Regions from separate parts of the Homo sapiens genome. Here region 2 is linked to region 1. Evidence: fine-mapped expression QTL. Tissue or cell type: whole blood. Region 1 holds a variant in brackets; the other region holds the start of a gene. All regions are shown on one strand. Distances are from middle to middle.

What was found. PIP is the estimated chance that this variant, and not a neighbour inherited with it, causes the effect.
Region 2: THOP1 starts here. The variant in region 1 is fine-mapped to the expression of THOP1 in whole blood (INTERVAL, PIP above 0.99).

The regions. Positions count from the first base shown.
Region 1 is chr19:2,757,271-2,765,370 of GRCh38, reverse strand. SGTA (small glutamine rich tetratricopeptide repeat co-chaperone alpha) reads left to right here. Exons shown (of 12, transcript NM_003021.4): 5 at 86-185; 6 at 1,614-1,718; 7 at 2,727-2,865; 8 at 3,849-3,911; 9 at 6,077-6,114; 10 at 7,589-7,678; 11 at 7,914-8,034. The coding sequence ends at 8,028. Among named protein-coding and RNA genes, the nearest start is that of SLC39A3, 21 kb to the right of the region's middle. The variant C/T (reference allele first, on the strand shown) is at 4,772.
Region 2 is chr19:2,782,197-2,790,296 of GRCh38, reverse strand. THOP1 (thimet oligopeptidase 1) reads right to left here and starts at 4,794. Exons shown (of 13, transcript NM_003249.5): 1 at 4,619-4,794. The coding sequence starts at 4,634. It overlaps SGTA (small glutamine rich tetratricopeptide repeat co-chaperone alpha), which reads left to right and starts at 7,024. Exons shown (of 12, transcript NM_003021.4): 1 at 7,024-7,064. RefSeq lists enhancers at 535-824, 2,477-3,003, 3,004-3,530, 6,593-6,662 and silencers at 4,508-4,967, 4,998-5,107, 7,053-7,102.

The DNA.
Region 1 (8,100 bases):
ACACCAGGCCGGTGTTTTCCTCTCTCCCTGACACCCCCTCCGGTCTGTGTGGACACCGGGCCGGTGTTTTCCTCTCTCCCTGTAGGAAACGAGCAGATGAAAGTGGAAAACTTTGAAGCTGCCGTGCATTTCTACGGAAAAGCCATCGAGCTCAACCCAGCCAACGCCGTCTATTTCTGCAACAGGTACCAGCTCAGGGCCTGCCCAGGGCAGGGGCGGCCGGGTGCGGGGGCGTCCTCCGGGATGCTTAGCAGGGACCTGAGATGGGAGAGGCCTCTGCGCTGTAGATGAGGGATCCATTCACCGGTGGTCTCAGACCAGGAGCGAGCATCAGGTGACCAGCAACGGGGTCGGGGAGAGTCGATGCTGATTTAAAATCAGGTAGCACGCCCAGCACTCTGGGAGGCCATGGGGGAAAGATCACTTGAGGCTAGGAGTTCGGGACTAGCCTGGGCAACATATCAAGACCCCCGTCTCTACAGAAAATGTAAAAATTAGTCTGGGGGCCAGGCGCGGTGGCTCACGTCTGTAATTCCAGCACTTTGGGAGGCTGAGGCGGGGGGGATCACTTGAGGTTGAGAGTTCAAGACCAGCCTGGCTAACATGGTGAAACCCCGTCTTTACTAAAAATACAAAATTAGCCGGGTGTAGTGGTGGGCACCACCAGTTACTCAAGAGGCTGAGGTATGAGGATGGTTTGAACCTGGGAGGCAGAGGTTGCAGTGAGCCAAGATTGCGCCACTGCCCTCCATCTTGGGTGACAGGGAGACTCTGTCTCAAAAAAACCCCGAAAAAAACCACAAAAATTAGCTGGATGTGGTGGTGGGTGCCTGTAGTCCCAGCTACCTGGGAGGCTGAGGCAGGAAAATCACTTGAACCCGGGAGGCAGAGGTTGCAGTGAGCTGAGATCGTGTCACTGCACTCCAGCCTGGGCAGCAGAGCAAAACCCTGTTTCAAAAATAATAAATACATAAATACATACATAGAAAATCAGGTATCATGGCATTCCACGTGGATGTCAAGCCAAGAAAATAATCCAGTATGTGGAGGGTTGTGTTTTTTGAATGTGTGGTCTTGGATCTGCTTCAGGCTTACAGGACAGTTGCAGAGGCAGTGCAGGGTTCCTGGCCGCCTGTCATGGGGTAGTTTAGTCTCCACTCACTCTTCTCTGTACTTTGAAAAAATTGTAAAGAGAAACACTAAACACGAAAATGGTGAAGACGATTCAGACGCTGTAAGCCAAGAGCTTTGAGCTTTGACATTGGTCTGAGTTCTTTTTTTACTGATATGTAAATAATTTGTGAATGAAACTTGGGTATAAGTTCCCTACCCTCATTGCTCTTGTACAGCCATGGATCGGAACATTTTTTGCAAATAAAATTCAGAGTCGCAGTCCTGAGTGGCTGCTGGTGCTTTGAGCCCACATTTGTCTAAGAGCATCTCAGTGGCCACACCTCTCAGCTTTCCCCATCAGCCCCATTTTACAGATGGGGAAAACTGAGGCCGTTCCTCCAGGAAGTTGGAGAGGAACGCAGCTCTCAGGCTCCCCTCAAGGGCTGCCCGCTGGGCTCAGAGCCGCCAGTGAGGGACCTGCCCTGCCTTTTCTTCCCCAGAGCCGCAGCCTACAGCAAACTCGGCAACTACGCAGGCGCGGTGCAGGACTGTGAGCGGGCCATCTGCATTGACCCGGCCTACAGCAAGGCCTACGGCAGGATGGGGTGAGTGCCTGTCCACGGCCGCGCCTTTCCAGTCTCTCGGGACCCCTCCTCTCCTGCTCCTGCTTCCTCTCTTGTGTGGCTTTTTTCCCACCCACAACGAATTCTCCCACCCCGGTTCAGTTCAACTCTGACACTAGCTGTTCGGAGCCAACGTAGTCCCTACAGGTCACAGGCTCAGCCCCACAGACGCCCCGCATCAGGTGCCACCCGGAGATCCCTGGGCCCCTTGCTTCTCCCTGACTGGCTGTCACCTGGGGTTCCCATGGCTCCTACTCAGGCTCCATTGTTTGCTGGGGCGGCTCACAGAGCTCAGGGAAGCACCTGGTTTATGATGAAGGACACAGGACAGGTCCGAGAGTGAGGCCAGGAGGGTCCCCGGGGCAGGAGCCTGCGCCCCGTGCAGCCGGTGCCGCCCTCCCAGCATAAGCGTGCATTCGCCTGCTTCTCTGAATGCCCTTGCTCAGAGTTTGTGGGATTGGGTCTCCCCAGAGGCTGGGGAGGGGCCCTGTTCAACTGCCCAGTCTCCCCAGGACCCGCCTCCTCCTGGGCTCTGTAGGGGCCCTGAGTCACCTCACGAGTGAAGACTCACTCAGGTGGGGGTCAGGGGCTGCTTGTGGATGACGGGAGACATGTCTGTCGCTCAGAGGTTCCGAGGGTCCTTGGTGCCCTGTGCCGGGAAGCGGGGCCAAGACAACATCCACGCATTTCCTGTGACCCTGAGCTGGCCCGCTCCCTCCTCTCAGCCCGCTCTGGGCTTTGAGGCCCTGTGTGTGGCCCCATGGGGACTCCAGTTCTTGTGTGGCAGGGGTGTTCTCATGTCTGTCTCCCTCAGTCCTGCCCCTGGGCCCCTCGAAAGCCAGGTTTGTCTCCACTGAGCTGACAGCGGGCAGGGGGTGGCACCATCCGAGGTGGTTTGGGGGTTGCCAGGACCGCCGGGGACGAGGGCTTTGGCGGGGCCTCCTGGAGCTGGGCAGATGGGAACAGTCCATCCCCGGTGCTCTCCTCCAGCCTGGCGCTCTCCAGCCTCAACAAGCACGTGGAGGCCGTGGCTTACTACAAGAAGGCTCTGGAGCTGGACCCCGACAACGAGACATACAAGTCCAACCTCAAGATAGCGGAGCTGAAGCTGCGGGAGGCCCCCAGCCCCGTGAGTGCAGCGGGGGCGAGTGGCTCCAGAACGCCGAGCTGACTGTGTGGGTGGGGGACAGGTCCTCGGGCGCACCAGTGGCTCTAGGCTTAACCTGGGTGTCGTGAGGGTCCGGGGTTTGTTTCAGTTGGTGGTGAGATGCACAGGCGTGGAAGTGAGTGTCGTGAGAAGGTTCATGCCCCCAGACCCCTGGAAGCAGGAGGCCGGCCGCAGGGCTGCCCGCGGAGGCTGAGGGAGGGGCACAGAAAGGACCCTCGATGTGGGTTTTGTGGCGAGGCCGGGTGAGGAGGCTTCGGGTTGGCTGGTTGGAGCCATTTCATTAGACCCAGGCCTGGGGGCTGCCCCTGGTTGCCTGGTCCCTGGCCTGGGGGTGAGTGGGGCAGGTGGACTGTGGCCCTGGGGTGATGGGGGAGGTGCTGAGGGTGTGGGTTCTGGGTTAGTTTGTTTGTATTTCAAAGGTGCGTTTCTGGGTGAGTCATTTGCTTTCTCTGGGAATTGGCTACTCCAGGAGGGGGCGGCTCTGCCAGGCCAGCAAGGCCCCAAGGTGTCAAAGCGGCAGAATACAGGAAATCAACACGGGATGATAGACTGTGCCGTCCCCGGGCGGTCGCGCTGTACGGGGAATAAACACGGGATGATAGACTGTGCCGTCCCCGGGCGGTCGCGCTGTGCGGGGAATAAACACGGGATGATAGACTGTGCCGTCCCCGGGCGGTCGCGCTGTGCGGGGAATAAACACGGGATGATAGACTGTGCCGTCCCCGGGCGGTCGCGCTGTGCGGGGAATAAACACGGGATGACAGACTGTGCCGTCCCCGGGCGGTTGCGATGTGCTTCGTGCTGCCTGCCTCAAAGCACCCTCTGGCCGCAGGGTTGATAGAATGTCTGAGCCCCGTGGGGGGCCGTTGTTTCTGAGTTCCAGGGGGTTATTCACCGTGGCCTCTGGTCCAGGCCCCACTAACCAGGGCTGTTCTCATCCTCAGACGGGAGGCGTGGGCAGCTTCGACATCGCCGGCCTGCTGAACAACCCTGGCTTCATGAGCATGGTAACGGCCCGCCCCTCCTCCCTGTCCATGGTGTCTGCGCCACCCCCCAGGCCCGCATCTGCTGTGTCCGCTACTGGCCAGGGCTTCCTTGCCTTGGCACTGCTGGCTTCTGGAACCAGATGGGTCTTGTCTGTGGGGTCGTCCTGGGCACCGCAGGGCGCTGGCAGCACCCCTGGCCTCACCCGCCCCATGTCAGGAGCACCCCCACCCTCTGCTTCGACAATCAAAAGTGTCCCCAATGTTGATGTCCCAAGCAAGACCCATCAGTAGTGAGCACCAAAAGCTGGCTCTCCTGGCTGAGCCCAGGGAGGTCACACCCCCACCCCACCCTGGCGTGGGCTCCTCCTCGCAGTGCAGAGACACTGATCACAACACAGCAGCGTCTGCCTCCTAAGGTTCAGGCAAGGGAAGCAGAGCGCCGGGTGCGCCGGGCGCAGGTGGACCTCCCGATGCCCGGGCACTCATGCTTCCAAAGGGACGGCCTTTGGCAGGGAGTTCCTTGACTGGGATCCTCGGAGAGCCATCCCCCACACACACATGTTCATTTCCTGGGAGGTCTGTGTGCCCTGGGACCACTCTTCAGGCTCCCACAGCCTCAGGGTACAGGGACTCGCCTAAGGCTGTCGGGGAGAAAAGCCCTCAGTCTCACTGTCAGTCAGAAAAATGAGCCAGCTGGGCCAGGAGCCCTGCCCGGGTCGTGCCATTCAGCAGAGGCCACACCTCTTACTGTAGCCCTCGTCCGCTGGCCAAGCTGCCAGGGGAATATGTTCTCCCTCACCATGGGATGGAGGGTGACTGGGCCCCAGTCTTTCAAGGGGCCTCTCAGCTTGGCCATGTCACAGACGCCTTTTCCCTTCAGA[C/T]ATCTGGGGTTGGCAGAATAAGGCCCGCCGCTGGGTTTTGTTAATAAAGTTTTTTTTGGTTTTTTTTTTTTTTTTTTTTTTTGAGATGGAGTCTCGCTCTGTCGCCCAGGTTGGAGTGCAGTGGTGTGATCTCAGCTCACTGCAACCTCCGCCTCCCAGGTTCAAGCGATTCTCCTGCGTCAGCCTCCCGAGTAGCTGGGATTACAGGTGCCCACCACCATGCCTGGCTAATTTTGGTATTTTTTAATAGAAATGGGGTTTCACCATGTTTGCCAGGCTGGTCTCGAACTCCTGACCTTGTGATCCACCCGCCTCGGCCCCCCAAAGTGCTGGGATTACAGGTGTGAGCCACTACACCTGACCAATAAAGTTTTATTGGCACACAGCCATGCCCATTCATACACCTAGTGTCACTGGTGGCTTTCATGATACGGCGGCAGAGCTGAGTAGTTGCGTCAGGCACCCGTGTCTGAAAAGGCTGAGAGTATTTACACACTGGCCCTTTACACAGAGAGTTTGCCACACCTCTGAGCCACCTCCTTTCAACAGGTCCAAAGGAATAATCCCAAGTGGAAAGTTAACATGAGAAAGTGCCCAGTATAGTGCTATTTATTTATTTATTTATTTTTACTTCTTTTTTGAGACAGAGTCTCACTCTGTCACCCAGGCTGGAGTGCAGCGGTGTGATCTCGGCTCACTGCAACCTCCCCCTCCCAGGTTCAGGCGATTCTTGTGCCTCAGTTTCCCAAGTAGCTGGGACTACAGGCATGCACCACCACACCTGGCTAATTTCATATTTTTAGTAGAGACGGGGTTTCACCATGTTGGTTAGGCTGGTCTCGAACTCCTGACCTCAAGCGATCTGCCTGCCTCGGCCTCCTAAAGTGCTGGGATTCCAGGCGTGAACCACCGCGCCCAGCCACAGTGCTATTTATTGATAGAGCAAAACTGGAACCAAATATGCTAAATGAAATATGCTAAAGCAGACAGCAGCTAAAATAAAGAACCAAAACGCCTCCACACAGCAAAACCGCAGCAGCCAGTGAGAGAGCGCTGTGGCGCTGCGAGATCGCTCCTGAAGCAGGAACCCAAAACAGGATTTAAGTCACAATGTGGAGGTCACAGCTCGTGGGTGGGGGGGCGAAAATGTAGGGAAAAGGGTATGAAAGACCGAATGCCCGGCTCTTACTGTTGGTTGGCGTGCTGGAGTCCAGAACCAAGGCTGGTTAAGATGGAAAGTGTCTGATGAAAGAGAATGATGCGCTGGGAGCTTTGTCTTCCTGACAAATTTGTTCTGTTCTTCAGGCTTCGAACCTAATGAACAATCCCCAGATTCAGCAGCTGTAAGTGACAACCGGGTTTCTTCGGGTCTTGTTGTGGTTAAATTTCCTTTTATTGTGGGTAAATTCACTTAACATAAAACTAACCACTTTAAAGTGTGCAACTTAATGGCATTAAGGACTTTCACACTGTCATGCAACTGTCACCACTATCACACTGTCATGCAACTGTCACCACCATCACACTGTCATGCAACTGTCACCACCATTGAGCACCAACCCATCTTCATCACCTCCGAAAGAAGCCCCTTCCCCCTCAGCTGTCACTCCCCAACCCCTCTCCTATCCCCTGACAACCACGCATCCCCTTCCTGTCTCTGTGGATGGGCCTGTCCTGGACATTTCGTAGAAATGGGATCACACACTGCGTGAACTTTGGTGTCTGGCGTCTCTCACTGAGCGTGACGTCCTCAAGGTGCATGTGTGCTGGGGCCTGGGTCAGGGCCTCGCTCCTTTTCATGGCTGAGTAATATTCCAGTGTGGAGGGACCACGCTGTGCTGATCCACACATCTATCCATGGACATTTGGGCTGTTTCTACCTTTTGTCTGTTGTGAACGGTGCTGCTTGAGCACGGGTGTGCAATCGTCTGTGTGAATCCTGTTTTCGTTTCTCTTGGATATAAACTTCTGAGTGCACTCGCTGGCTCATAGGGTCACTCCCCAGTAAGCGCTGTGCGCACTGGGGAGCTGCTCACCTGTTTTCATGGTGAAATCTTTTTTTCTTTCTCCTTTTTTTTTTTTTGAGACAGAATCTTGCTCTGTCACCCAGGCTGGAGTGCAGTGGCAGAATCTTGGCTCACTGCAACCTCTGCCTCCCGGGATCAAGTGGGTCTTCCCAAGTAGCTGGAATTACAGGCATCCACCACCATGCCCGGCTGATTTTTGCATTTTTAGTAGAGATGGGGTTTCACCATGTTGGCCAGGCTGGTCTTGAACTCCTGACCTCAGGTGATCCACCCGCCTCAGCCTCCCAAAGTGCAGGGATGACAGGTGTGAGCCACCGCGGCTGGCCCACGGTCAAATCTTAAAGCATGGTTTCCCAGCCACAGCACCGTGGCCATTTGAGCTGGACCAGTTTCTGGAGCAGGGCCGTCCTGGGCACTGCAGGGTGCTGAGCACTGTCTCTAGCCTCCATCCACTCCATGCCAGGAGCACCCCCTGCCCCTGTCTTGGCGTAACCCAATCATGGCTGTTGCAAATGTCCGCTGCCATTGCAGGGGTCCTCTGGGGGCAGGATCACCCCCTGGCTGAGAACTACGCTCTTTAGGCCAAAGAAAGAGGGGTGTTCTGGGAAAGCAGGTGAAAGTCACAGGGTGGGTTTGGGCCCTGGAGGCCCACCAGGTGGTGAGAGAGAATCCTCTCCTGCAGGGGAAGGTGAAGGGCTGAGAGGGATTCTCTCCCGGGCCACTGCGAGGGCCTGCAGTGGGGGTGGCGGTCAGGCTGTCCCGGCTGCGAGTCACGCGCTCTCTCCTGCAGCATGTCCGGCATGATTTCGGGTGGCAACAACCCCTTGGGAACTCCCGGCACCAGCCCCTCGCAGAACGACCTGGCCAGCCTCATCCAGGCGTGAGTGGAACTGCTTCCAAGAGGACGGAGGACGTGGGCGGCGGGCAGGGCTCGCAGGCGGAAGGGAAGGAGGAGAGCGAAAGTGCTGCGTCCCCTGCTCCGAAGGGCCCAGCGTCCTCCAGCGAGGGGTCAGGCCTGTCTTTGGGGTGGAGGGCCCGAGGGGTCAGCTGGGGATGGACGGAGGCAGCAGGCAGCCTCCTGGCCCTGGCTGAGCCCCATGTGCCCTTCCCCGCAGGGGCCAGCAGTTTGCCCAGCAGATGCAGCAGCAGAACCCAGAGTTGATAGAGCAGCTCAGGAGCCAGATCCGGAGTCGGACGCCCAGCGCCAGCAACGACGACCAGCAGGAGTGACGCTGCGTGAGTGCATGGGGCCGGGGGCTGGGGGGTGGCCAGCAGGAGTGACACCACGTGAGTGCCTGGCAG
Region 2 (8,100 bases), 25 kb before region 1:
TCTTGTAGGGAAGCACAGACTGACCAGTCCTCTAGAGCAGGAGGCTACTCTGCCATCAATCCCATCCAGGGAACCCTGGGTGACATCTAGGACACATGTGGCTGTCGCGGTTGCAGATGCTCCTGGCGTGGAGTGGGTGGAGGCCAGGGATCCTGCTTAGTACCCTGCAGTGACCAGGACGGCCCCAGCAGAGAACGATCAGCCCGGAATAGAGATGATACTGCTGTTAAAAATCCCCCTGCCCGGCCAGGCTTGGTGGCTCACGCCTGTAATCCCAGCACTTTGGGAGGCCGAGACAGGCAGATCACGAGGTCAGGAGTTTGAGACCAGCCTGAACAATATGGTGAAACCCCATCTGTACCAAAAATACAAAAATTAGCTGGGCGTGGTGGCACGCATGCCTGTAATCCCAGCTACTCAGGAGGCTGAGGCAGGAGAATTGCTTGAACCCGGGAGGTGGAGGTTGCAGTGAGCCAAGATCGCGCCACTGCACTCCAGCCTGGGCGACAGAACGAGACTCCATCTCAAAGAGAAAAAAAAAAAATCCCCCTGCCCTAGAGTGGAGACACCATGCACAGATCAGCCTGTACAAACCCCTGGGTGTTCACAAAAGGGGAAGTCCAGGACCACCCACGCACTGCTCAACTCCTGCCATGCCAGAGGGGAAAGGTGAGGTATCGGGGGGTTTTCGGGAGGAGTCCCTTCTTCTGTCTGCTTCTTCCACACCCCACACCCAGTGGGGGGAACAAGCAGGCCTCCATTCATGAACTCAACAAGAAAGTCAGCCTGGCGTGTGGTCGTGCCAGACCCACAGGTGCTACGGGCGAGTCATATGTGGCCCGGCCACTCACACCAGGGCCTCTCTGAGAAACGGGTAAATGGAGCCTGAAAACAAGAATGGCAGGCGGGGGCTCCTGGCAGCGAGAGCAGCTGCGGGAAGGGCGACTATGTGAAGTCAGTGCGGCTCGGCACAGAGAAGGTGGCAAAACCACCTGGAAACACCTAACCGTGCAGGGCCCAGGGGGCCAGCAAACAGTTCTGCAGAGGGTCCAGGGGGCCAGCAAACAGTTCTGCAGAGGACCCAGGGGACCAGCAAACAGTTCTGCAGAGGACCCAGGGGGCCAACAAACAGTTCTGCAAAGGGCCAAGGATTTTCAGCTTTGTGGGCCACATATGGTTTCTGTCTCATCCAAAAATCATCTTCAGTTCCAGGGGTGTACAAAAATAGGCAGGCCTGGCCAGGTACGGTGGCTCACGCCTGTAATCCCAGCACTTTGGGAGGCCAAGGCAGGCGGATCACTTGAGGTCAGGAGTTCGAGACCAGCCTGGACAACATGGTGAAACCCCGTCTCTACTAAAAATACAAAAATTAGCCAGGTGTGGTGGTGCGGGCTTGTAATCCTAGCTACTCTGGAGGCCGAGACAGGAAAATCGCTTGAACCCAGGAGCCAGAGGTTGCAGTGAACTGAGATTGCACCACTGCACTCTAGCCTAGGCGACAAAGCAAGACTCCATCTTGGCCGGATGCTGTGGCTTGTGCCTGTAATCCCAACACTTTGGGAGGCCAAGGCGGGTGGATCACCTGAGGCTAGGAGTTCAAGACCAGTGTGGCCAGCATGGAGAAACCCCGTCTCTACTAAAAATACAAAAATTAGCTGGGTGTGGTGGCAGGCACCTGTAATCCTAGCTGCTCAGGAGGCTGAGGCAGGAGAACCGCTTGGACCTGGGAGGTGGAGGGTGCAGTGAGCTGAGATCGTAGCACTGCACTCCAGCCTGGGCAACAAGAGTGAAACTCCGTCTCAAAAAAAATAGGCAGGCTGGAGTTTGCCAACTCCTGGTGTAGATGACAATGAAGGCTTTGAACTTCAATCCTGAGTGCAAGGTGGAGCCCTGGAAAGGGACAGGAAGGGGATGGGACAGTGGCACTAACAATCAGATGTGCATTTTTACAAAGGCTGGGGCAGGCACAACAAGCTAGCTCAGAACGCAGAAGCTGAAGTCAGATGGCCTGGGTGCGGACCCCACCTCTGCCAGTTGCTAGTTCTGGGATTCTGGCAAGAAACATTAACTCTCAGGCTTCCCACCTGCAAAACGGGAACAATTCAGGGTGCAGAGAACAAGAACTGTCTAAGAATTCAGTGAGGTATGAAGGCAAAACATCTTGTATCCTGAATACCACCAGAAAGTTTTCAAGAGGTAGCTGTTATTACAGACCATGCTCTCCTGTCCAAAAAGTCTTGGGGCCGGGGACATTTTAACATTCAGAATTTCCCCCCATTGTAGAACAGTATTAATAGAGTCCAAGTGCCATGTATTCCAAATCACTAGGGAGGCTGAGGCAGCACTCCGAAATCAAATTACTCTTTCTGCAGTGAGATGCAGGAATACGCACCAGGGTGTCTCTCTGTCTGCACTGTGGCCATTGGGGCCGGATCGTTTTCTGGGGTGGAGCTGTCCTGGGCACTGCAGGGTGCTGAGCAGCGTCCCCGGCCTCCATCCATTCCATACCAGGAGCGCCCCCCAACTGTGACAACCACAAATGTCCCCAGACACCGTCCAGTGTCCCCAGAGGTAGCACAATCACCCCAGCTGAGAATCAATGATATTCGCTAAGTGGGAAAAAGAAAGGCTCTCAGTCGGTCAGTTGAGGTCATTTTCTGGCCAAATGACTTTGCTGTAAACTTAAGGCAAACCTTTCAGTTTACAGAGTATTTAGGATTTTAGAACTGCAAAAAAGGGACTGTGGATCTACATTAAACCGTGGGGTAAAGAAGAGCTTCAGGGGCTCAGAAAGGATGGAGATGGATGGGAACTGGAACTGTCAGAAAATTCTCCTGCAGGAGTTAGGATTTGAAAAACTTGTGGACGTCAGTTCATCCTGTAAATATTTACTGATTGTGCCAAGGATCCAGTAGCAAACAAGGCAGACAACATTCCTTCCTTCCCAAGGCCTGAATATCCCTGACTATCATTATTACAATTATCACCCTCATCGCAATGGGCTGGACAAAGAGCTGGGGGAGTGTGGCTGGGCAAGAGAAAAGCCAAGGATCAGGCAAGGAGTTGCTTCAACAACCTGAGTGACCTTCTAAAACCCAGGCCGGGCACGGTGGCTCATGCCTGTAATCCCAGCACTTTCGGAGGTCGAAGCAGACGGATCACTTGAGGTCAGAAGTTCGAGACCACCCTGGCCAAGATGGTGAAACCCCATCTCTACTAATAATACAAAAATTAGCCAGGTGTGACGGGCGTGGTGACTCACGCCTGTAATCCCAGCACTTTGGGAGGCCGAGGCGGGTGGATCACGAGGTCAGGAGATGGAGATCATCCTGGCTAGCACCGTCTCTACTAAAAATACAAAAAAAATTAGCTGGGCGTGGTGGCAGGCGCCTGTAGTCCCAGCTACTCAGGAGGCTGAGGCAGGAGAATGGCGTGAACCTGGGAGGCGGAGCTTGCAGTGAGCCGAGATCGCGCCACTGCACTCCAGCCTGGGTGACGGACCAAGACTCTATCTCCAAAAAAAAAAAAAAATTAGCCAGGTGTGGTGGTGGGCGCCTGAAATCCCAGCTGCTTGGGAGGCTGAAGCAGCATAGCTTGAACCCGGGAGGCGGAGGTTGCGGTGAGCCTGTGTGAGCAGAGATTGCACCACTACACCCCAGCCTGGGAGACACAGACTGTCTCAAAAAATAAACCAACAAATAAATAAATAAACAGTACACAGGTCACATCGCCCCTTTGCCTCTAAATTAAAAGGGTCTTGGCTGGGTACAGTGGCTCATGTCTGTAATCCCAGCACTTTGGGAGGCCGAGGCAGGTGGATTGCTTGAACCCAGGACTTCAAGACCAGCCTGGGCAACATGGCGAAACCTCGTTTCTACAAAAAATTAGCCAAGTGTGGTGGTGCAGGCCTGTAGTCCCAGTTACTCAGGTGGCTGAGGCGGGAGGATTGACTGAGTCCAAGAGTTCGAGGCTGCAGGGAGTCGTGATCGCACCACTGCACTCCCGCTTGGGAGACAAAGTAAATAAATAACAAAATTAAAAGGTCCCCTCGTTACGTTCCAGCCAAACTGACTTTCTGCTCTCCAAACACGTTCCCTCCTCCCGGGACGCCTCCTTCCCCGGTCTTGGCAGGACACTTGCTTCTCCCAATCAAGCAAGTCGACGCTCACCTCTTCAGAAAAGCCCCCCAGGAACCACCCTCTCTCTAAAAACGTGTCCCTGGGACTGCCCCGTTCGTGTTTATCTGCACCAGAGCACCGATCCCTCCCTATCTTCGATCCTCTCTTATTTAATTTTTGAATGTCTGTCTGTGGCTCTAGAATTCCAGGAAAACGGGACTGGAGTCGTTAAATCACGGCCTCCCCAGGGTCCGCCACGGGGCCCGACCCATCCGGAAGGGAAGCGCCATCAACTTTGCAGAATGAATGAAGCGCTGGAAAAGCTGGTTCATTCATTCGGCAAACGAGAGAGCAGGGTCGTCCACCTCCCCCGCTGCCCCTCCAGCCCGGCCGAGGGTGGCTCGGGGGTCGCTTCGCTCCAGCCTTAGGCCCAAGTCGCGACCCCGGGAGGAGCGAGGGTGCAGGGGACGCCCGGGTCCGGCGAGCGGGGTAGTCGGTACCTGCGGGGGGCTTCATGGCGGGTGGGTCTGCGCCTGCGGCTCCCTCCCTCCTTCCACCTGCTACGCGTCCAGCCACCTCGGCCACTGAGGCCGCCTGCCTCGGCCCAACCGCCGCCACCGCCGCCACGGCCGCCTGAGGACCAAGGGGCCCGCCGCCCGCGCTCCCGGGGCATGCTGGGGCGGCGCGCGCACAGGGAGGGCAGGACGCACGCGCCCCTGAGCCCCGCCCACAGCTAAAGGAGGAGGGCCGGGAGTGCGCTGGAGCCCTCTGCGCACTCGCCGTAACCCTCCCGGTCCGTTATTGGTCTCGGCGGTGCGTGGGCGGAGCCTCTTGCTCTACCATTCCAGAGCCGCTGGGGTGGCTAGGACGGACGGTTTCCTTGGAAACCGCGCACGCCGCTGACGCCTCTGAGCCTCTGCGCGGCTCATTGCGCTGAGACTTCGCTTGGGCTTCAGGCTACCGCGTTAATGTGTACTTGCCTCGCTTCTTATAGCTGTGTGTTGGGCCAGTGTTATTATTGATCGCTTACTGTATATCCCAGGCCCACTTTCCAGCATCTGAATCCGACGAATCAATTAAATTAACCAGAAGTTTTGGTGCTTTGGTTGTTTTTGAGACGGAGTCTCGCTCTGTCGCCCAGGCTGGAGTGCAGTAGCAGCAATCTCGGCTCACTGCAACCTCCGCCTCCCTGGTTCAAGTAATTTTCCTGCCTCAGCCTTTCCAGGAGCTGGGACTACAGGCGCCAGCCCCCACCCCGGCTAATTTTTGTATTTTTAGTAAAGAGGGGGTTTCACCATGTTGGCCAGGATGGTCTTGATCTCTTGACCTCGTGATCCGCCCGCCTCGGCCTCCCAAAGTGCTGGGATTACAGGTGTGAGCCACCGCGCCGGGCCAAGTTTTTTTTTTTTTTTTTTTTTTTGTCAGAAACAAAAGCAAGTAAACGGATTCATGTCAAATAACAGGTGTTGTGGAACAGTGCAGTAGCCTGACCTACATGCAGTGTTGTGGGTTAAAACAAAAAACATCTTGAACCATCTGTCTTGAACTGTTAGGGCACCCAGAAAAAACAATGTACTACAATTAAACTGGCAAAAACCAAAACAACCGACCTCCTTTCTTCCCTTTTTTTGTTTTTGTTTTGTTTTCTTTTGCTTTGGAGGGGCTGGAGGGAGTCTCGCTCAGTCGCCCAGGCTGGAGTGCAATGGCGCGATCTCGGCTCGCTGCAACCTCTGCCTCTCGGGTTCAAGCGATTCTCCTGTCTCAGCGTCCCGAGTAGCTGGGACTACAAATGCCCGCACCACGCCCGGCTAATTTTTGCATTTTTAGTAGATACAGGGTTTCACCGTGTTGGCCAGGCTGGTCTCGAACTCCTGACATCAAGTGATCTGCCCCCTGGCCTCCCAAAGTGCTGGGATTACAGGCGTGAGCCACCACGGCCGGCCTCACCTCCTTTATTTCTGCAAAAGAAATTAAAATAATCCACGCCATTAATCGTGCATGTATTTTGAGTAGGACGAAAATGAATTGGGAGAACATTTCTGGCAACTGTAACTTAGATGGTGATCAGTTTTCTGTCGTCCTTGGAAATGTCTCATCACATGTCTTGAGCAACACCAAGATTAATTTTACATCGGCGTTCATTTTCGCTGTTCCCTGTGCCTGGGGTCCGTTTGGACTTTCCTATCCTTGAAATCCAAATGTAAAGGATGATCTTTCCTACCCATCCCATGCGACTTAGCTCCCAGTGACAATCACACTACCTTCATTTTTTTTTTCTTAGTGTTTGCTGTGAAATTTGTTTCTCTATTTATGTACTAGTTTATTAGTTTATAGTCCGTCTACCCCAATGCAAAATAATGAGAGTAGACACTTTGCTGGTTTTTATGGCTGCTTTGCAATAAATATTGAATGAATATTAGGCACCTGCTGTCTACAAATGGCTCTATACTCACAAACGTCTCACACTGCATGAAAGAATGCATTTGTGGGTGAGTAGATGGGTGGGTGAATAAATGAACAAAGATAGTAAGCGGGTAACACTGACTCCCATTCATTGCGCAGCTGTGACGCTCTGGAGTCCAGGTGTCCAAACGCGGCTGCACCACGTGGCCGGCCCAGCACCACGTGGTCAGCTCGGCGACCGGCTGGAGTCAGCCACTGTTCCACCGTGCACCGCTTCATTCCCGCTCTAGAGGGCAAACCAGACCCGATTTCCGGCCTCCATTAGGTCGCAGAGGTCAGTTGCCCTAACAACCAGCTGGTTCCCGCCTCTACGTTGCGTCACTTCCTTCCACGCCCGCCTCCATCATTAACGCGCCTGTGCAGAAGGGAAGCAACTCCGGGCGCCTTTCTTTTGCGCAGGCGTCGCGCCCTGGGGCCGGGGCCGGGCGGCACCGCGGTGCGCAAGCGCAACCGTCGGTGGGTCGGGGATCGGTCGCCTGAGAGGTGAGTGAGGGGCACTGCGCTGAGCCTGGTGGGTCTGGGGTCTGCGGCTCGGGGCCCACGGGGCCCCAAAGCTCGTAAGAGTTTGGGGATCGTGAGGCCAGGGTCACCGCGACCCGCGGGGTCCTGTGAGTAGGCGGTGCGGAGGGGAAACTGAGGCCGGGCGCCATCGGGCAGGCCCTTCGAGCCCTGATCTCCCTTCCCCAGGCCCCAGGTCCTGGAAATGCTGGTCCGCGGCCTGGTGGCGAGGACGGCGGGAGGGGAAGGCGCCCCGCATGTAGTGAGCGCTCGCTGGGTGTTCGCTGCCGTTCCGCTCTTATTAACCGCCTGGAAACGTCGTCCCTGTGACTCAGGGACCCCCGTTTGTGGGGACTGAAGTCGGAACTCTGGTTCCAGCGCCGCCAGTCCCTACCTGGGTGACCTTGCCCAGCCTCTTGGCTTCTCGGAGCCTCAGTTTTCCCCTCTGTAAAACGGGCGTTGTTCAAAAGTCCCTGCCTAGGAGAAGGAGAGCCGCAGGGTCCAGCGGAATCTGAGAACTCCAAAGAATTAGCAGGCGTTCGTCTTATATCATGTTTAGAGTCTTCTTCTGCATATCGTGCTAGAGGTGGGGGAAATCTGGGATTCAGGACCGTCCACCACCACCTCCCACCCGCTGTGTAAACCTGGGTGAGTCGCCTTCCCTCTCTGAGCAAACTGTTCCTTCTTTCGCAAACGAGTTGTAAAAGCAGATGCCTCGGAGGGTCATTATGAGGATAAACCCACATTCAATTATTTGATCAGGTGCCTGGAACTTGATAAGAGAGAGCTGGCTTGAGAATAGCTGTTTTTGTTATTAGGTGCCAGAAAATTGCAGTGTAGTGTGCCCTTCAGAGGTTGAATGATTGTCCCATTTTCTTTTGTTTCTGTCTCTGATTATTCCTTTTGTCTGCCTTTTCCCTCCCTTGACCAGTGGTTCTCAACCAGGAACAATTCTGTGCCCCAGGGATTCTTGGTGACATTTGTGCTTGTCATGATTTGGGGGACCCCCTGGTTTGGAGTT